5 separate regions of the Homo sapiens genome follow, and regions 1, 3, 4 and 5 are each linked to region 2. The links come from fine-mapping of genetic effects on gene expression. A gene starts in region 2. Each other region holds a variant in brackets. All regions are shown on one strand. Distances are from middle to middle. Region 1 overlaps TBC1D22A (TBC1 domain family member 22A). Region 2 holds the start of TBC1D22A (TBC1 domain family member 22A). Region 3 overlaps TBC1D22A (TBC1 domain family member 22A). Region 4 overlaps TBC1D22A (TBC1 domain family member 22A). Region 5 overlaps TBC1D22A (TBC1 domain family member 22A).

Region 1 (4,116 bases), 410 kb before region 2:
TGCCTCCTGGGTGGAGGCCATCCTGTGCTGGGGACCCTCCATGCCAAGGAGCTGCAGGGTGGGTGTGGAAAGGCCTCACAGCTGAGTGGGGGCCACCCCAAGCAGCCCGCAATCCCGCAGGGCAAAGTGCAGAGCCAGAAGGAAGCCAAGGGGCTGGGGCTGAGAGAGGAGAGGAACGGTGGGGTGGACTGGGGCTGGGAAGGCCCCAGGGAGGTCCACACCCCGAGGGGTCTGAGTCTTGGGCAAACTCCCCAGGACTGCGGCCGAGAGCAGATCACTGGGGCCACAGGGCTGACGAGGAGCCTCCAGCTCTGGAGGACGGCGGCATGGAGGCTGGCATGCTGCAGCCTGCGATGGCGCGTGTCATTCTGCAGCCTGTCCCCAAGTCCTCAGCGGAGTGGGTCTGCTTGAACACAGACAGTATTCCTCCTGTTTCCATCCATCGGTGACACGGCACAGAAGCGTCCCACCTCCTAGTTCTTCCAAAAGTACAAACCACAGAGACTCTCCATCTCCTACTCCCCAGGACCCCAATGCTCCCCGACGCGTCTGACCTTGCCAAGGGCACAGCAGTGGTGCCAGCAGGCCGAGCCTCTCCCTGGGACCGGGCAGGGTGAGGTGCACAGGACAGCAGCCACCACAGGTCAGGGATTGATTTCAGGACCCCTGGGCTCGGGCCACCCACAGGAGCAGAGTCTGCACAGGCTGTGAAGACCTCAAGTTGGGCCCGAGGAGCCAACTGCTGAGCTGCAAACTCCGGGGAATCGTGAAGGTGAATGGCAGTTGCTGGGCTGTGACCTGGAGTCAGGAGCTGAACACCTGGTGGCTGCTGGGGACAGCCGATCTCCGTCCTGCAGCCTACGACCCTGCAGACCACAGCCAGGCAACAGTGAGGTCAGCCCATGTGCCGGGCCACCGGGCCCAGGAAGGCAGCCCTGCCTGGCTCAGCTCCGCACTGGGTCACTGTGGAAAGAGAGGTGAAGAGGCTACTCCCACTTTGTGGAGCCACCAGCCCACCCGTGGGGACAGGAGCACACCCCACACCTACGGGGACAGGAGCACACCCCACACCTGGTCAGTAGTGCGCACCCCACACCCGTGGGGACAGGAGCACACCCCACACCCGTGGGGACTGGAGCACACCCCACAGCCGGTCAGTAGTGCACACCCCACACCCGCGGGGACAGGAGCACACCCCACACCCGCGGGGACAGGGGCACACCCCACACCCGCGGGGACAGGGGCACACCCCACACCCGCGGGGACAGGGGCACACCCCACACCCGCGGGGACAGGGGCACACCCCACACCCGCGGGGACAGGGGCACACCCCACACCCGCGGGGACAGGGGCACACCCCACACCCGCGGGGACAGGAGCACACCCCACACCCGTCAGCGGACAGCACAAGGCAGTGGAAAGCCAAGTGCTGCCAAGGGAGGGTCCCGAGGGTGGGGCACCCAGGGGGGTGTGGGGTACCTGAGGGTGGGGCACCCAGACGGGGTTACTCAGAGGGGTGTGGCGCACCTGGAAAGCTGCCCTGAGAAACTGAGGCCCTTTGAAGGGCCTTGCTTCAGTAACACAGGGCAAGGAGGGTGTTTCAGTGTGTGGGTGAGGGTGAGGCAAGTGTATCCCAGGAGAGGCGGGGGGGACCCCAGACCCTGGTGCCTACCCCGGAACAGCCCTTTTCAAAGCAGGTGCTTGACAGATGTGGCCCAAGGGGAGGTCCCTTGTTCAGGAGCCTGACAGGGGCCAGCCTGGACCCCACACTCCCGTGTTCCAGCTAGTGCAGAGCCGGGCTTCGGGGGTCAGACTGGTTTCTGAGTCTTGCCCCGCCCGGGCAAGTGGCATCCCTGCACCACCTGAGCAGCTGCAGCCCCATCTCCCTGAGAGGTCCTGCGGGGGGCAGCGAGATCACGGGTGCTGCCGGGCCCACGCTGGTGCGCCGCAATGGCCCTGAGCTCAGACCCTCGGCAGGGCTGGGCCAGGGTGCCCCTGTCCTCGATGGGCAAGTCCTCGAATCACAGGCCAAGGCCGCGGCTTTGTCACTGATCTTTATTCCGTGTTTTTAGCGCACCACATCCAGACAGCACACCCCGAACATTCCAGATGGATCTGCTCAGACTTAAGGCCCGCGGCCAACACCTCTCACATTCAGTCTTGGCGTTTACATA[C/T]ATGAGGAAATGCACACAGGGCTGAACTCCGTGGAGCTTCCTGTTTAAAACATCAACCACCTCGAGAAGCAGGTCAGTTGTGTCCGCAGCCTTCTGGCCACACGGCATGATCTGAGCTGGAGAAGGGGATCCTCCCAGGGCTGATCTCGGCAAAGCGACATGGGGCTTCCTGCACACGGCCGAGGGGCGGCTCTTCTTGTGACGGAATCCCCTCCCCATCTAGAAAAGGAGGCGGCAGGAGGAGGAGGCATGGCTGGTCTGAGGAACCCTTGACCCTGGGGTGGGGACACGGAAGGCAGGGGTAAGGCGTGCCCGCATCTGATGTGAAGCAAGCCCATCCCTTTGCTGGTTTGGGAGCATCTGACGTTTGCACAGCATTTTGTGCTAATTTCCATGCTGTGTGTAATGACCCTGGATTTTTAAAACAGAAGCAGAAACACACACATCACTTATGCCTGTATGTCCCACAGTCTCTGGCAGTGTCCTAGGGCCTGGGAGAGGACACGGCTGCTCCTGAGGGACAGAGGAGAGTCTGGGAAGTCAGTCACCAGTGGGTCGCTGAGGACGTGAGCCTGTCCTGGGCTCAGGGATCAGACAGACTGTGGCTGTGGCCCTGCCCGCATTCCAGGGGTCATGCAGCCTGTGACACACCGAGGGAACGCTGGGAAGCCAGTCCCAAGGCCCCTGGAGCCAAGGACACAGCCCTAGCAGGGCGCTGGGCAGGGACCAGCTCTGGGCCCTTCCGCACTTAGAGCCCCAAGGAACCAGTCCACAGCGGGAACCAGTCCAGGGCAGAACCAGTATACAGCGGGAACTGGTCCACGGCGGGAACCAGTCCACGGCAGAACCGGTCCAGGGCAGGAGTGGTCCAGGGCAGGAGTGGTCCATGGCGGAACCGGTCCATGGCGGAACCGGTCCACGGAGGAACCGGTCCATGGAGGAACCGGTCCATGATGGAACCAGTCACACCTCCCCTACACCTGGCAGACCTGGACAAGGACAGCAAGTCCCAGGAAGTCTCCAAAAGCTCATTCCGCTTCCAGGCTGCGGTGAGAAGAGCACTGTGGTTCAGGGCTTTGATGACAGGGACGCGACCCCCTGCCCGTCTGCCAGCCCAACATGGCCCGACAGCCTGGGTGGGCCTCCAGGGGCTCTGGCTGAGGCCGGCGCCTACCTGCGTGGCGGGGCCACTTGGCCCTGGACCTCAGGGAGGTGGGGGTTTCTCTCTTGTAAAAGAGGTTCAAGGTGGAAAGTAAGGCGATGGCGAGGCCTCCCTCTGCTCCCAGCCTTTGGTCCCACGGCCTCCCAGGCACTCGGCGGGCTCACGGCTTGGACTCCAGCCTTCAGCTTCCCAGCCACGTTTAAACCAAGCAAGCAGGAAAACACACGGAGGGAAAGGGCCAGCAGCAGTGAAATACAGCTGTGAGGGGACCTCGCGGCACAGAGACCCCGGGTCAGCGCAACGTCTCGGTCTAGATTTTGTCTACATTTTATTCTTTCACTCAACAGAATAGAAGTTTTGCATTTCAGAGTAGGTATGAGATGGCCACTACCTCGTTCCGGCCCTGGCACCCAGACAGCAGGACTCCAAAGAGGGTCGGCCTCCTAGGCTGCCCCGGACTAGGGGCAGCACGAGGCAGTCATTTGGCAAGGACATTGCAGGGAGAGGGAGAGGGGACCCCTGACCTGCCTCTGGCCGCCGAACCCGGGGCCCTCCCCTGGCTCTCTTTGGTATCTCAGAAAACAAAGGCTGTCCCTGTCTTTGTCAGCCCTAGACCAGGTCTGTGGCCCATCTTCACCAGCTCCCCTGGAGGGTGGGGCCACCTCACAAGGCCTTTTAGCAGCCCGGGACCAGCTCACAGGGGCCTACCACCAGCCAGGCAGGTGGGGCGCGCCACCCGGGACAGTGAGGCCAGCTGCGGGTGGGCCTGGGCTCATTTCT
Region 2 (4,090 bases):
CTGAATGGCTTAACACAACAGACACTTATTCTCTCTCAGTTTTAAACGCCAAAAACCCAAAATCAAGTGGTCATCTGCAGGGCCATGCTCTCTGTCAAGTCTCTAGGTGAGCATCCTTCCTTGCCTCTTCTAGCTTCTGGTGGCTGCCAGCAACCCCTGGCTTTCCTTGGCTTGTAAATGTACTATTCCAATCTCTGTTTCTGTCTCCATAGGGCCATTTCCCTGTGTGTGTCTCTCTGTATTCAAATTTCCCTCTTTTTATAAAAATACTAGTTGACGAACTAAGGCCCACCCTCATCCAGTATGACCTCATTTTACCTTGATTACTTGTGCAAAAACCCTATTTCCAAATGTCACATCCATAGTTTCCAGATGGACATAAATTCAACTCAGTATAAGGACAAATTACCAAGAGCCACAGCCTTCAATCCAAAGGTTGAGTCACTGCTGTAACTCCACACAGCAGCTCTGTTATTCTTACATCTAAGCTGATTAAGAATTAGAGTTTAGACTGATGAGGAACCAAAACCTTAAGACCTAAAAGTAACACATAAAAGTTACACTGTCATGTGGCTCCTCTTCCCTGGACTCTTATGTTCTACAGCATTTGTTCCTGTCACTACCAGGACCTCCTACCCACCACCATTCCAGAATCTTCACTCACCTTGGACCCTGACACTGGTTTTGTTGAAAGGTCTTACTGTTCTCGAATCAAGCACGGTCCTGTGGAGTCGAATAGGGTCTCCGGCCACCTTTGATGACTCCCTTCATTCTCAAAGCCACTGTCTGAGCTGTCAGTAACTCACGCTGCTAACCCCCAGATCACTCTTAAAAGTAAACTTTCCTTTTTTTTTTTGAGACAGAGTTTCGCTCTTATTGCCCAGGATGGAGTGCAATGGAACGATCTCGGCTCACTGCAACCTCCACCTCCCAGGTTCAAGTGATTCTCCTGCCTCAGCCTCCCAAGTAGCCAGGATTACAGGCATGTGCCACCATGCCCAGCTAATTTTGTATTTTTAGTAGAGACTAGGTTTCTCCATGTTGGTGAGGCTGGTCTCAAACTCCTGACCTCAGGTGATCTGTCCACCTCGACCTCCCAAAGTGCTGGGATTACAGGCGTGAGCCGCCACACCTGGCCAAAAGTAAACTTTTCTAACTGGATGCAGTAAATTCCAAAGTTTATCATTCAAACACTCAAACAATAATATTTATTATGAAACAGGAGTACAAACCATTTTACTGTGTTTATGAATGATTCTACTCAGACTTATCTTCGTAACACAATTCATAATTTTCAGCATTCCAGACTTCAGCTTTGGAACAGAACTATGTTCTGAAATCTTGACGTTTGCTTATCTCTGATCTGTTTTCACCAGTGGCTGATTTTATCCTAGGTACCCTCCACGTAATGTCTCATTCCCTAGGGCCCTGGCATAGCTCAGCGCCACAGCAATCAGACAAGGACTCTGGAGCTCTGGAGCTGTATAGCATCTAGGGTGTACCCAGGTCATTCCAGCCGAAGAAAAAAAAAAAAAAAAAAAAAAAAAAAAAAAAAACTTCCTGCTAACACAACATAGGAGGTGGTTTTGACACCAGCAAGCAGAAACATGGAAACTCACAGGGAAACTCTAGTCCTCTTCTATGCTCAAGGCAAGAGCCGCAGCCCTCAAGAGACCACAGGCAAATCAAGTGGGTCAAAAACACCACACCCCCTGCAGAAACTGATCCACCCAGCAGACGGGGGGCCTCAGCCCGGCCAGCTTCCGGACTCCACCAAACTTCACAGCATGACCCGAATCAGTTCCTTCCAGCCTCCCCAAGGAGCCCAGGAGTTTCTCGGAAAGAAGCCTGCCAGTGTCAGGAAAAACGCCAATAGCTCCTCCTCGTCCTTGCAAGCCTCGATCCTACGTGCAGCCACTGTCACCCCCAGACCCCACGCTCCGACCTCCGAGCCCCCCAACGCCCGTCACACCATCCAGCAGTCTCCTCAGAGTCCAAGTTGCCCTCTCCAGACCCCCGACTCCACCCGCAGCCCAGGAGGCCAACGCGGCCACCTGACCTCTGACCCCTGACCCCGACCTGGCCCTCCGCGGCACACCCACCTGCCCGGGAGCTTGCTGTTGCTGCGCTTCCAGAATTGCTTCCTGGCCCCGTCGCTGGCCATGGCCCCTCCTCATCCCTCAGACCCGCGGCCCAGACACCCCGAGTGCACCCGGCCCTCCCCTAGCGGCCCTTTCCTGTGCCCCGGGTGGCCCCTCACTGCTCCCGGGACTCCAGAGCCTAGAGCCGAGAAGCTCTTCCGCCTCCTTCCGGAAGTTGTGCCTACGCGCGCCCGGAAGTCCCGCCTAAGTCCCTGGTGGCGAGTGACGCAGCACTCCGAGCGCCCGTCGTTATTAAAGGGCGACGCCGCGCAACGCACGTTACACGCATCGCGGAGGGAGCGGAGGTGGTTGGGTTTCTGAGTTTGAGTCTGTCGCTCCTGGCTCTCCCGACACAACAGCGGCGCCCACCTGCCCGCAACGGACTCCCAGGAGCCTCGAGCTCCTCATTTCCAAAGCTGAACTGCCCCGTGTCTGATTCCGATTTCTCTTGAGCGCGTTTCGGAGCCGGCCCAGAACAGAGGGAAGCCAGACACACCATACCCGGCCCAACAGTGGCAGGGCGGCTGCGGGTGCTGGTCAAGCTGGGTCACCCGGCACTGAGTGACGATCAGCAAATACTCAGTGGACGAAATATTTGCAGTGCAGTGAGGTGAGGGGCATAACCGCGGAGCGTATTCGAAGAGATGAGAGAGACTGGGGATTAGGCCAGGCTTGAAGGGAAGAATGGTTTGAGCACCGAGGACAAGAATTAATTCCCCAGGCCTGGGTTCCAGCCTTGTGCGGCTATCACGTGCTTGAAACCTGGCTAGTCCGGAGTGAGATGCGCTTTACGTGTAAAATACAGGATTCCAAAGACGTCGTATAAAATAATTTGTATATTGTTTGCATGTTAGGTAACATTTTTAATGTATTGGATTAAATAAAATGCATTAAAATTATTTTTACATTCCTTTTACTCTTTTTAAAATTATTTTTACCTTTTTTATTCTTTTTTTCCGGGGGGGACTGGGGGTGGGTGTCTTGCTATGTTGCCCAGGCTAGTCTCGAACTCCTGCCCTCTAGTGATCCTCCTGCCTCACCCTCCCCAGTAGTTGGAACTGCAGGTGCACACGTTATGACTAGATCTTTTTACTGTGTGTGTGTGTGTGTGTGTGTGTGTGTGCAGAAAATCACTAAAAAAACCGTGTCTGGTTTGCATTACATTTCTGTGCTTCTTAGACCAAAGATTGAATGCTCAGGGACTGTCATTTCAGACTGGAGCTTTAGTGTATTTGGAGCTCCTGCCAGTTCTCTTTTAAAACAAAAATCTAAGACATATTTTCTGATTAAGAATTTCCCTGGAGGCTGAGGCAGGAGAATAGCGTGAACCCGTGAGGCAGAGCTTGCAGTGAGCCCAGATCGTGCCACTGCACTCCAGGCTGGGCGACAGAGCGAAACTCCGTCTCAAAAATAATAACAATTTCCCATGCCTCTTCATTTACTGGTAAGTAACATTGACTTAGTACTTACTATGTGCAAGGCGTCCTACTCTCCTAGAATCCTCTCCTAGTAGGGCTCAGAAGGCCCCAGGGGTCTCCTCCTGACAGAGCCCTGACAGCCTCAGACAGTGAGGTCCCCTACAGACAACACTGAGGACCATGGCGGTTCTTTCCAGCTCAGTCTGGCTTATTGCAAGAACCAGTGAGCGAGGTGACAGCAGGATTAACCTGATGGAAGGGGAAAGGAAGGAAGAACTGAAACAATTGACAGAGGAAAAACTGGCAGCACTTAGTGACTGGTTACACCTTAGATCCGGGTGCTTTTTATAGCTTACCGTATACTTTGCTAGCTACTGTTTTCAGGCGAAGGAGTGAGGCTGAGATTGACTTGAAGGCTTCAAAACCAGCTAAGCAAAGGATTACTAGGATCACAACAGAAACGTGAAGATGGAAAAAGAAAGTCTGAGTAGAAGGCCAGTTTTGAAAGCCAAAGTAATACAGATGTTGGAG
Region 3 (4,116 bases), 220 kb before region 2:
TCTAAGCAGCCCTAATGAGGCAGGAGGGCGCCCCACCGCTGCCACCGCTCCACACTGGGCACTTGCTCTGCATGGCCAACAAGGTCTACAGCTGCCCTCAGTGCTCTTGCACCTGCCCGCCAATGCCTGTCCCGCCACCACCTAGTTTAGGCTCCTGAATCCCCTCCTTCATCCAAATACATCCCACATCCCTCCACAAGCTTAGACGTCCCTCAGGGCAGTGCCAATGACATCGATTCGTTGTTCACACGACCGGTAGGCCAGCAGTGGCTTTCCAGGCATTACTCGCTGGACAGACCATCTCCCCTAAGACCAGCACATCTGGAAATGTAGCTGTTTTGCCTTTTCCCCCAACACCAAATGCCCCTGACTAAAAAGACTGTCTCTTGGCCGGGCGCAGTGGCTCACGCCTGTAATCCCAGCACTTTGGGAGGCCGAGGCGGGTGGATCATGAGGCCAGGAGATCAACACCATCCTGGCCAACATGGTGAAACCCCGTCTCTACTAAAAATATAAAAATTAGCCGGGCGTGGAGGCGGGTGCCTGTAGTCCCAGCTACTCGGGAAGCTGAGGCAGGAGAATTGCTTGAACCCGGGAGGCAGAGGTTGCAGTGTGCCAAGATCATGCCACTGCACTCCAGCCTGGTGACAGAGTAAGACTCCATCTCAAAAAAAAAAAAAAAAGACTGTCTCTTAAACACTTAGCAGGAAGGGCATCAATCCACCAGAGATGAGTGATCAGGCCCAAGTACCTGGTGCAGGCCACAAGGACAGACTTTCCAGAGCTGTCAAACATCAACCCAGCTTCCCAGCCTCAAGCTCCAGCCCACACTCCTGCTCCCTAAGCACTCTGAGTGATCCCACACCATGGAGTCCCAGCTTAGTCTAGAATGCTCTTCTCAATCTGCTAATCCCCCACCCAGACCTTGGTCTATCTGGCTCCCTAGTAACTGCTGGTATTGCCATTCTTACAGATCTTCTGTGCACACTGGAAAAGAATGAATATTCTCTGTGTGCTGGATATGGGGGTCTAGGTATGTCCATTTGCCCAAACTGTGCAGTACACGTCCTCCCAGATCTTCCTAATTCTTATCTGCTCGATCTACTGTATTAGTCCACTTTCATACTGCTATAAAGAACTGCCCGAGACTGGGCAACTCATAAAGACAAGAGGTTTAACTGACTCACAGTTCAGCATGGCTGGGGAGGCCTCAGGAAACTCAGAATCATGGTGGAAGACAAAGAGGAAGAGGCACGTTCTTTGCAGGGCAGCAGGGAGGAGAAGTACTGAGCAAAGTGGGGGAAGAGCCCCTTATAAAACAGTCAGATCTCAAGAGAACTCACTCACTATCAAGAGAACAGAATGGGGGAGACCGCCCCCATGATCCAATCAGCTCCACCTGGTCTCTGCCTTGACATGTGGGGGATTATGGAGATTACAATTCAAGGTGAGATTTGGGTGGGGACACAAAGCCTAACCGTATCACCTACTAATCACTGAGAGGCAGGAAAGCTGGTACTGGACTGTGTGGGTCTAAACCCCAATGCTGCAACTAACTAGCCACAAAATTGGAAGTGCCTTATGGTTGCTGTGAGGGAAAATGAACTAATATTACAACGAAGCACTCAGGACCATGTCAGGCATTGACAACCACCACCCCTCTCCCATCATACTTATGTACATGTGCAGAAATACAGGGTCAAGGTCATGCATTCAAGATTAACTCTTCCCTGGTAAATGTATCCACTGGCAGTGATACTCTTTGTCTCTAGGAATGCTTTCTGCCTTAAAAATCTATCTCATTTAATAGCTCCACGGCTATTACACAGCTACATATGGGCTACAGAGCTACCTAACTATTACTTTGGTTAATATTCTTCTGTTGCATTTCCTTTCTACCTGTCTCCTTGTGGTTTCGGTGTCTTGTAAGTA[G/C]CATATAGCTGGATTCTGTTTTTAAATCTAATCTCATTGGAGAGCTATTTTTCTTCAGAACATGAGACACATTATTCTACTTTTTTCTGGCCTTTCTTCTTTCCTATGAGACTTTCTCTTCTCTTTCTTATTCAGTGGCTTCACTCTCATGTCTCCATAGGTAATTAGTTTCAACTCATCTTTCTGGAGATTTATTAGATATTAGTAACAACATCTCATCAATGCTGAAAAATTCCCAGCCACAGCTTTACAAATATTGGCTTTCCTCTAGTACATTTCTCTTTCTAGTTCTATTTTTTAAATTCTATCTTTCCATGTCTTAATCTGCCCATATTTTCAGTATCTCTCTGTGTTGCCCAGTTGGTAATTTTCTCAGCACTACATTCAATTCTAACTAACTCTCTCTTCTCTTTTGTCTAATGAGTTTTAAATTTCAGTGACTCTAATTTCGATGCTAGAAGTTCTGTTTGGTTCCATTTAAAATCTGTGATTTCTAGCCGGGCACAGTGGCTCACACCTGGGTAATCCCAGCACTTTGGGAGGCCAAGGCAGGGGGATCACAAGGTCAAGAGATCGAGACCATCCTGGCCAACATGGTGAAACCCCGTCTCTACTAAAAATACAAAAATTAGCTGGGTGTGGTGGTGGGCACCTGTAGTCCTAGCCACTCAGGAGGCTGAGACAGGAGAATCACTTGAACCCGGGAGATGGAGGTTGCAGTGAGCCAGTATCACACCACTGTACTCCGACCTGTGCAACAGAGCGAGACTCCATCTCAAATAAATAAATATAAATAAATCTGTGAGTTCTTTCTTCAGAGTCTTTATTTTAAACTGTTTCATTCTCCTTAATATTTTAAAGTTACACATTGTCTGGTTCCTTTCAAATCGCTGTTCTAGTGTCTCAGGTCTCTGGGTACAAATCCTCCTAACGAGAGCAATCGCTAACATTTATTCCCGGCGCACTCCTTCTCTGCTTGGTTTGTACTTCGTCTGCTGTGAGGTCATCTGCAGATGCCTCTTCCCATGGGAATGCCACAGGCCTGTGGCAGGAGATCATCCCTCCTGGGCAGAAGTTCTCAGACGGTAGCCAGCCAACTCCTGGGGGTCCCTAGACCTTTCAAGGGGTCTGTTATATTGAAACTGCTGTCATAGTAACATGAAGGCATGATTCACCTTCCTCACGGTGCTGACATTTGTGCTGGCAGTACACAGGCAGTGGTGGGTAAAATTGCGGGCATGCTGGCAGCAGGCAGGGCAGTGCCCTCACCACACTCAACCGTCACTGTGTTCCCAATACCACACGCTCATGGTGTGAAAGCAAAAGGCTGTTTCACTTCAGGACGCCCTGGATACGGCAGGAAAGGTCACTCATCTTACTATTAACACTGCGCTCAGGCTCAGCCCTGACCAACACGTGGAAGAACACGGAAAGCCTGAGGGGCAAATCCAGAAACAGAAGCGTCGTCAAGGAGAGCACTTGGTGCGCTGGCTTCAGCTGTGAGCTGAACCGAACACTTTCTTCAAGAAACATCACGTTTACATGAAAGAAGGACTAGCAGACAAATCAGTTATTCAAACGCGGGTCTCTGGAAGATATTTTCTCAAAAATGAATGAAGTTGGCCTGTCACTTCAAAAGAAACAAGGAACTGTGTTTGTTGCCAATGATAATATCTGAGCTTTTAAATTAAAAATCTGAATTTTGGAAGACTTTTATCTGCCACCCTGGGCCTGACAGCTGCTTCTTATGAGACGGTGGTAATATACTAACAAATTTGATCATACGATGAAACTTATCAACATTTAAAAGATCTGCACACCTCAGTCAGCCAATATTTTCCAAATCGCCAATGAATGATGTTACAGAGCCAATATATGGGTAAAAGATCCTATCAAAGTGCAAGATAGGCCACCAACTTTAATGTAACTGAGTGTAAAACATTCACTGATGAGGTTTCAGATTTCATATCACAACTACCCTTTAAGAAACTACCATTTGTTGAGTAATAGTATAGTATGAATGAAAAAAGAATCCAAAATTACCTGAAAAGGCTATTAAAACACTTCCTGGCCGGGCGCGGTGGCTCATACCTGTAATCGCAGCACTTTGGGAGGCTGAGGCGGGCAGATCACTTGAGGTCAGGAGTTTGAGACCAGCCTGGCCAACACAGTGAAACCCTGTCT
Region 4 (4,116 bases), 270 kb before region 2:
AAAACTAATTTCACTACCAAAAAATGGTTCCCATAGTCTCTAATAAGTAAAGGGCAGCGCGGCAAGTGGAGAGAACAAAACGGTGCTGCCGAGGGGCCCCTGAGGCTGAAGCCCCCGCAGAATTTAATCCCACGGCTGCTCATCCCTCGGGGGACAGAGAGACCAAAGGGGGTGCCAGGAGGTGTCTCAGGATCCCCACAGATGAAGAGACACTGGCCCCCAGAATGAAGTCAGAGTGCCTAAGAAAGGCACCAGACCCCCACTCCCTCCTCGGCCTTCACCGCTGCCTTCCCCTGCAATGCCATGCCTCCTGCGGTGGCACCAGGTGACCAACAACACCCATGCTACCACGCAGGCTTCCCCGCGCCCCGGGCTCACCCTCATGGCAGCCTTCCACCAGGGCACCTGTCTCTGCTCAGTGCGAGGCTACCCAGACGTCAAAACTCCTGGATGCTTCCAGAAACACCCCAAGCTGTGAGCCTCCCCCTCTTCTTCGTTCTATACACACCTCTATGGAAGCATTTATCACGAAAGGGGCATAAGTGCTCAGGGTGCCTGCCCACCCTGGGGTGTGAGCTGGTCAGGTGTGGGTCCAGGTCTGTGTCGCCTTTGTTTCCCCGGCCCCCAGTACACACAACTGAGCATCCATGAGTGTCTGTCAGGTGACTGTGATGAACGAATGAGTACAGAGAGCAAACAGGTAACCGGAAGATGGACACATTCCCAGCCTGGCCGTCCTCCTCTACTTCTATTTCTCAACACAGCAATAGCGAGGAGTTTTCCAGCCACACCCTAGAACATGACGTTCTTTTCAAAGAACTTACAGAATCATTTCTAACCTGAAGTTAATCTGCAGCTACAAAACTAAACTGATAGAAAGTTCTACGAAGCCCTGAGGGGGCTCCACCATCCAGGCCTGACCTCTGCCCATGCCCCTCGGAGGGTGGAAGTCCACCCAAGCTGCTACCAGACTCTGCTGCCCCCAGCGCACTGACACGTGGAATTCAAGTCTGAACACTTAAAACCAGCTGTTTAGAAAATGACTCCATTTACTCAACAAGGCTCTTTTGCACAGAAAAAAGAATGAGCTTCCATGAAGGAGCAGTTGGCTACTTGGGGAAGAGCAGCCAGGACGACAGCGACAGCCCCAGAGGAAAATCACTGCTTGAAACAAAGCGCCTGAGGAAGGAGGGGCCACACAGGGCAGCCTGGGACGGCAGTGTGAAAGGAACGTTCCAGGGCAGGTGCCTGGCCTGGCAGGTGGCACCTGGTTTCACTGGCCACTCCCAGCCCACAGCTCTGCGTGGACGTCTGGGCTGCAGCAAGTGGGTGCCGCCTTGCACTGGCGTGAATGAAGCTCTGCCGTGGAGATAAGCTGAAGTCAGCAGCCTGGGGCCTCCTGGGACACACGGCCACACTGCACATCCCTGTCTGGCCGCTGCTCTGAAGGTTCTCCAATGCTGCCAGGGCAGGGCCCCAGTGTACCAAGGCAGCAGTGGGACAGTCACAGGCTAATCACCAGGACACGAGTGCTGTGCCCACATTTTACACAGGAGGCTTCAGGCGAGCTTTAGACAGGGCTACAGAGCCTGGGTGTTCTTCCCTTTGGGTGTGTGTTCGCGGCCACTCCCTCTCTCCTCTCACTCCAGGCACAAATCCAGTGTATGATGAGGCCTCTCAACCAAGCACTCACAGGGCCAGGCCCTGGACCCAGTCTGGGGGACCTGGTGTGGGTGGGACTTGCCAGAGGGTCTTATCCTCTAGACTGTGACTTCCTCGAGGGCAGGGACTTTGTCCGGAAACAGAGACCAGCACCAAGGCAGGCCATGGCCCACCACACATGTGATGTGTGCGGGGCACACATTTGTTAACCAGGCAGCCTGGCACCCAGGGCAGCCGCTGCCATGGATGAGGATGAGGTGACTGCTGGGGAAGGTGCACACCACAGAGTCACACGCAGAAGAGGAGCCGTGGCTCACCGGCCAGTCTGTCACCTGCCTAGAGCAGCAGCAGCCCACCTGTGCCGGGGCTCGGCATGTCCCCACCTGGGAAAACAGACAACTCTACCACGGGCCTGGGAAGCAGGTGACATCTTTCCAACACAAACTGGCAAGAAACAGACTTGAAAATTTAAACACATATTTCTG[G/C]AACACCTGTCATTGTGGTAACTAAACAGAGTACAAATTAACCCTTCCTGCCCCACTTGCAGGGACTCAGGGGTGGAAAGCACAGAGGCCACCAAGCCCTCAGCCCCTCCCTGAGGGACGCTGACTTGAGGAGAAGGAGCCCGTTCCAGCCAGAGTGCAATGGCCGGCTAACCTGCACCGAACTCCCACTGCACAGCTCCTGAAGGGGGGCACACACCTCACACCCTGGGGACCCCGGCCCCTCACCTGTGAGGTGAGGCAGGTGAGGGGACCTGTCCAAAGGTGCACACAAGGAGGCAGGCGAGCCAAGATGGGCCTGAGGATTGCCACCACTCTGTCCCCTTGAAACGACCCCACACCACCAGAGCTGAGCATGGACCCACCCTTGCATCTCTGGGCACCTGCGCCCTGGGCAGAGCCACCCACCCTCCTCAGGGCAAAGCCCAGTACATCTGCAAGAGCACCCGGTCACAAGGAACTAACCAGAAAACCGGACACAGCGTTAACCTCACAGGCACAGGCAAGGCCGTTCCAGGGCAAGAGGCTCCTCTTTCATTGGTTCCTTAAGGAAAGATTGACCAGGGCCTCCACTTCCCAGGGTTGCCTCTGAAAGCAAAGCTACAAGGAAGACAAGGCCTGTTTCTGCCCGCCGGGGGCTCAGCAGCCTGTAGGAAACAGACAAGGCAATCCAGCCTTCGGGCTCCAAGCTGTGCACTGCACCCGAATTACAAGCTCTCTGTGTCCTGAGTGCCTGGCCTTCTGCCTGACACAGGACCTTGAACTCCTGAAAGGAGTGAAAAGGCAAAACCCACGCCCACCCAGAGGTGATGGCAGGCACAGCACGAGACCATGGTGGCCACAGCAAGGGACTCCATGGCAAGCGCTCCGCTGAGTCACCCAACACAGCCTGGCTAAGCTGGCTTGATTCTGGAGCCCATGGGACATCCATCCAGAAGGCACCGGGGAGTGTCCTTCTTCACACGGAAGTGGTCACTTAGCACGACTCCGTGGCTTCTCTGGCAGCACGTCATGAAGGGTGCGGGCGTGGCCAGCCAGGGCCTCACCCCGCCGGGACGTGCATCCCCAGCGGGAAAGCCTCCTCCCGTCTGGGCACGGTGAAGGATGGGCTGCTAAACTCCAGGCATTACTTCCCATTTATACACATCAAAGCTGCAAATGTACATGCCGAAAGGATTCATTTTTCTTATTTTATAAGTAATTGCGAGCAGATGCTCTTTCACTGATAAAGGTAATTTGGTTGGCAATAATTCTGAATTTGAAATTTCCATTTCACTGGAAATAAGAGTATACATACAATGAATGAGCAGGCAGGTGTAATTATTGTCATATTTCAGGCTGAAAAGGTTTTTTCATAAAGCCCTTATGTGGCAGGGCAAGGCAACGTTATTGTTGTAAAGTCACCAGGAAGAGATGTGTCATATTGGCAAGCTGGAGAAACAACCACAATATTTGTTGAACACTTTTCCCAGCACTTTAAACAGCAGATCCACAGACCGAAAATTCTGCTGAAACATCTTGTCTTCTTGATTAAAAATAAAAATAAATTATGCAAGCACATTGTGTCCCAGGATTTAGGCTAAAATGGAAAAAACACGTATCCCATTGACTTGGCATAAAACACACACTGTTTATGCAGGACCAGACACTCAGATTTATCACCCGAAGAGCAGCATAATGGCTCACACTTAGACACCTGACAAAGAAAACCTTTCAACCCCCCGCACAAAGCCGAGAACAGACACAAATACATCACGCTTTGGCTGGGACAGCCATGAATAGGCTTTGATTCTGGGGGAAGATTTCAATTCTCTAATCAGTTAAAAAGATAAAAAGAACAAAAGCAAGAGCCACTGACAGTGAGCAGGGCCCCTCCGCACCAAGAGGCCCCCCACTCTGAGCCCACCTCCTTTCTCATTTGCATGGTTTGGTTTATGTCGCTGACAGCTAG
Region 5 (4,116 bases), 230 kb before region 2:
GTGAATAACAGACAGACCTGGAGTCAGCTTGGAGCGCAGCTGCTGCCTCTCCTGGACTTGCTCTAGCCGCAGAAATGCTCGCCCCATGGAGGCCAAAACGGGGAGAGGCGAAGGTGGGTTCAGCCCCTTGCACTTCTCAAGAGGCTCCACAGCAGGTGGGCAGGGCCCGGCCCTCAACACTGGCTCTGATGGGGTGGGTGAGCCTGATGGGTCCTGGGATCAGTCAGCCATTCGGTGGCTCTCCCACTAAGACAGGATTTTAGGCTCTCAGTTAGCAGAAATAAAAGTTATTCTTTGCCTCCATCTGGCACAGTTTTGTTTTATTTCTCAATTTGTTCAAAACCCAGGTAGGGAAGACGGATTCTCAGAAATCCAAACAATTAAAAAAAAAGAATGACACCTGAGAGCCAATAACGAAAAGGTCTGCATTTTGAAAGAGAAAATGTTTGCATTTTGAAAGACCTGCAAAGACTGACAGCTATGGCCTCGGCATTCTGGCTTCAGGCTAGGGGCGGAGAAGGCCAGCCTTCAGAAGGCTGTAGCAGGGACGCCCGGCCCCACCCCCCGAGGGCGAGGCGCCAAGGCTAAGACACAGGGGGGTCGGTCTGGGCCCTCCTGGCTCCTGGCTCGGGAGGTGAGCCCAGCCTGCAGAAGGCCCCGCTCTGGGGCCAGGAAGCCTTCAAGGGCACTCTAAGGAGGCAGACACCGTGGCCAAGGAATCCAGAGCCAGGTGGCTGAGGAAAGGAGGGAGAAAAGAATGTCCCATGGCCCTCGCAGCAGCCTGTCCCAGGGAGGCACTGACCGCCCAGGCCCTCCCAGCAGCTGCCCGCAGGCTGCACCAAGGCCCCTGGGTAGATCACAGGCTCTGTCTGCTTAAGGCCCAGAAACCAGATTTGCCCTCGGGACACCCCAGCCCAGCACCCCGCCTCCCACACCTGGCACCCAGATCACCTGTGCTGGTGAACACGTACCTGGGCAGCAAAACAGGAACTAAGCAAGAATCCTCTACACTTATAAAAATGTCATTAGTAATAATATTAACATTATTCCCTTCATAAAAAGTAAGTATGCATGTCCTTTCCAATTGAGATCTGGTATCTTTAAAAAAGGATATAATTTATAAAACATATGCATCAGAGGGAAGAGAGGAAGGGCTGAAGACAACGATCTGTTGTGAAATGTTTCACAGAAGGTGAAGTCTGTGAATATAAATTTTTAAAAATACGCTCAGCTTGCCTTACACCTGTTGCCATTACAACATCACACTCTTCCCGATAACAAATAACACTTTCTGCACTTTTTGGAAGAAAAGTAGAATAAAATTTTCTTAGGGAGCATTTTAGAGAAGAGTCGAAATATAAATTCCTATCAGCTCACCTGGAAGTACCCAGAGTCAAACCTGCCAGCTCACGGAGAAGTTAGACTCCCTCCTGCCTCTCTGACAAAGTGCTCTTCCACCTGGACCAGGGATCCACCTCCCCACAAAGTCCAGCCTCTTCTTTCCAGGCTAATTTCACCGTAACATAGTGTCTTCCCCACATTGAAACCAAATGTGCCTTCCACGCCCAGGCCTTGACCTGCCTCTGAAACACCTCGGGAAGTCTTTTCTGCAAGCAATGGCCTGAGAGACTTCCATTTCCTTCAACTCTTAAGACTCCCTTCCACATCCTCTCGGGGGCCCCTGGCCACCAGCCCTGAACACAGAAGCTGGGCTCTGACCACGCAAGGACAGAGCTAGGAAGCCTCCTGTCACAGCTGCACTCCACTGTCAGCCATTAATACATTAAAGCCATTAACGCATCAGTCCAGCGGAAGGCAGAACCACATCAGATACTAGTTCTTTCATCTGTTCAACTCTGAAAGCCTCCTACGTGCCAGAAAATCAAGTCCTGAGTATCGATGTGTGCGAAGGAGTCAAACACGCAGGCCTGGGAATGCTATCCCCGGAGAGTCCTGCTTGCAAGGCCGGTCCCCGGCCGGTGCCTAGAATGTGGGTTTCAGGAGAGTTCCCACGATTCCCTGACTGATCTGGATGACTCGGCGGGCCTACACTGTGCAGGGTGGTTCACCCTGGGCACCTGCT[C/G]TCCTCCTGGGAGGCTGCATTTGGGCACATGCCAAGCAGAGAGTGTCCGCATGCCCAGTCCCCAGTAACATCCTCGGTGCTGAGTCTCTAATGTGCTTCCCCAGCAGGCAACGTTTCGGACGGGTCGTCCCAGCCCCGCACTGGAGGGATCCAGCGTGTCCTGTGTGACTCCGCCAGGAGGGGGCTTGGAAGCTTATACCGCTTCCTCTGGACTTTACCCCTTGATGGAGTCTCCTCTGCATCCTTGCACTGTGAAGAATCACAGCCACGAGTGTGGCTCTGTGGGGTCGTCTTGGGATCCCCTGACACAGACAGGGAGAAAAGTGGACAGGCAGACAGGACCCTTCTGTTCACAGGGATGACAGTCTGACAGCTGAGCCAATGTTCATCACTCGCCAGGCAAGTGCACATTGACTGCTAACGAGGACCTGGGTGGCCACACCATCATAGCACAGAACCAGGGCTGGTCCTGGAAGACCACTTGGAGGGTGTGAGGTCTGAGCAGAGATGAGAGAGAGGGTTCAGGCACCATGCAGCAGAGCCCCGGCGGCCCGAGGGAGCATGTCACATCCCAGAAATGAAATGGAGGCCAGGGCAGCTGGAGGGCAGCGAGCAAGCTGCGGCTGAGGCAAGAGGAGACCGTTCCGAGGCTGGAAGGCCACGTCGGAGTCAGCGGTGAGACCCAGGCAATGCTCTCAAACGCAGGTAATGAAATGCAAATGGAGGCCACTGCAGGTAAGAGATTTGCACCACGGAAAGATGATGTAGAAACAATGGAATGAGCCAAATGAGGATGGAGGGGTATCATTCACGAGGCAACTGCCGTAATCCAGGCAAAGTGACTACACGCGCTTCCCACGGAAGACAAAGTGAACCCCAACTGTCCACACTGCCTTCTGCTGAGCTGACTGCTCGGCTCATGCACCTGAACGTAGGACTTGCCATTTGTTCCTATTAGCTCATTCATTTGATTGGTTCCCGGCTGGCACTGCAGGCAGCTGAACCCATTCTGAATCTTGATTGTGCCATCTATCACATTCGCTATCCCTCCCAGCTGAGAGGCACTGGTTAAACGGATCCCCTTGACGTCTTCACTACAGTCTCTGCCAAGAGGAGGGAAGGGCAGGGCCAAGGACGGGGCTCGGCAGCATGTTCTCAGAAAGCACCCTCAGAGCACAAACGTGTCAGATTCTATGCAGCCTTGTTTAACCAAACCCCCTGCTTTCCTACCTGCCAGGTTCATTTCTCTGATCTTCTGTGTTCCCATCTGTGAAATGGAGAGAGGAAGGGCTCCATCACAAGGGCACAGGCGGTACTGAGTTACTGTGTCTAAAAGAACCTAAGACAATGCCCATATAGAGTGCAAACCCAACCTCCCCCTAATTCCGCACCTTCCATGATGTGTCAGCCATCAAACAGTGGTTTAAGGCTGAAGGCTCCCAACCCAGCCAGGCCAGAGGAACCAGTGCCTCTGTAAACCACTGGAAACGTGACTGTCCCTTGTCTTCAGACACGGGCCAACCAGCAGAGTAAAGCGGCACACCAGCAGGAGGAGGCCATCCATGGTCACTTCCAGACGCACACGGCGAGGAGCAGAGCCGTCACGAACGCCGGCGCGGGAGGGAGACAGCCAGCAAGCCAACGGGGAGAGAAGCCACCGCAGCAGGAGCAGTGGGATGAAAAGGTTCCAACTGCAGGATTTCAACTAAGTCACATTCTGGCAAAGGTGAAACTATGGAGACAGTAAAAAGCCCAGGGGTTGGGTGGAAGGGGATGAACAGGCGGGGCACGAGGGTGTTCAGGGCAGGGGACGACACTGTGCGACACTTTCTTGGTGGACTCATGTCACTGCACACCTTTCAAAACCCACGGCCTACAACTGGTGTAAACTGTGGACTTTAGTTGACAATAATGTATCGATATTGGCTCCTCAATTGTAACACATATGCCACACTGAAGTCAGTGATGTGAGATACTAATCACAGGGAGGCTGGGGCTGAAGGAGGACGCTGAGGAGCACATGGGGCCTCTCT

The links. PIP is the estimated chance that this variant, and not a neighbour inherited with it, causes the effect. A credible set is the group of variants that fine-mapping cannot tell apart.
Region 1: its variant is the best candidate, but not a certain one, in a credible set for the expression of TBC1D22A in whole blood (TOPMed, PIP 0.83).
Region 3: its variant is the best candidate, but not a certain one, in a credible set for the expression of TBC1D22A in whole blood (INTERVAL, PIP 0.63).
Region 4: its variant is the best candidate, but not a certain one, in a credible set for the expression of TBC1D22A in whole blood (INTERVAL, PIP 0.80).
Region 5: its variant is the best candidate, but not a certain one, in a credible set for the expression of TBC1D22A in blood mononuclear cells (TOPMed, PIP 0.82).

The regions. Positions count from the first base shown.
Region 1 is chr22:47,173,619-47,177,734 of GRCh38, reverse strand. It overlaps TBC1D22A (TBC1 domain family member 22A), which reads right to left. Exons shown (of 13, transcript NM_014346.5): 13 at 2,042-4,116. The coding sequence ends at 4,109. Among named protein-coding and RNA genes, the nearest start is that of TBC1D22A-AS1, 260 kb to the right of the region's middle. RefSeq lists an enhancer at 794-1,884. The variant C/T (reference allele first, on the strand shown) is at 2,175.
Region 2 is chr22:46,760,861-46,764,950 of GRCh38, reverse strand. TBC1D22A (TBC1 domain family member 22A) reads right to left here and starts at 2,301. Exons shown (of 13, transcript NM_014346.5): 1 at 2,103-2,301. The coding sequence starts at 2,164. TBC1D22A-DT (TBC1D22A divergent transcript) reads left to right here and starts at 2,423. Exons shown (of 1, transcript NR_186691.1): 1 at 2,423-3,040. RefSeq lists enhancers at 584-633, 654-733, 774-843, 1,774-1,853, 2,554-2,683 and 1 more and a silencer at 1,594-1,653.
Region 3 is chr22:46,978,794-46,982,909 of GRCh38, reverse strand. The region is part of intron 9 of TBC1D22A (TBC1 domain family member 22A); the gene reads right to left. Among named protein-coding and RNA genes, the nearest start is that of TBC1D22A-AS1, 65 kb to the right of the region's middle. The variant G/C (reference allele first, on the strand shown) is at 1,933.
Region 4 is chr22:47,030,011-47,034,126 of GRCh38, reverse strand. All of the region lies in intron 10 of TBC1D22A (TBC1 domain family member 22A), which reads right to left. Among named protein-coding and RNA genes, the nearest start is that of TBC1D22A-AS1, 120 kb to the right of the region's middle. RefSeq lists enhancers at 1,499-2,090, 2,587-3,114, 3,115-3,643. The variant G/C (reference allele first, on the strand shown) is at 2,148.
Region 5 is chr22:46,990,394-46,994,509 of GRCh38, reverse strand. All of the region lies in intron 9 of TBC1D22A (TBC1 domain family member 22A), which reads right to left. Among named protein-coding and RNA genes, the nearest start is that of TBC1D22A-AS1, 76 kb to the right of the region's middle. RefSeq lists an enhancer at 422-1,250. The variant C/G (reference allele first, on the strand shown) is at 2,084.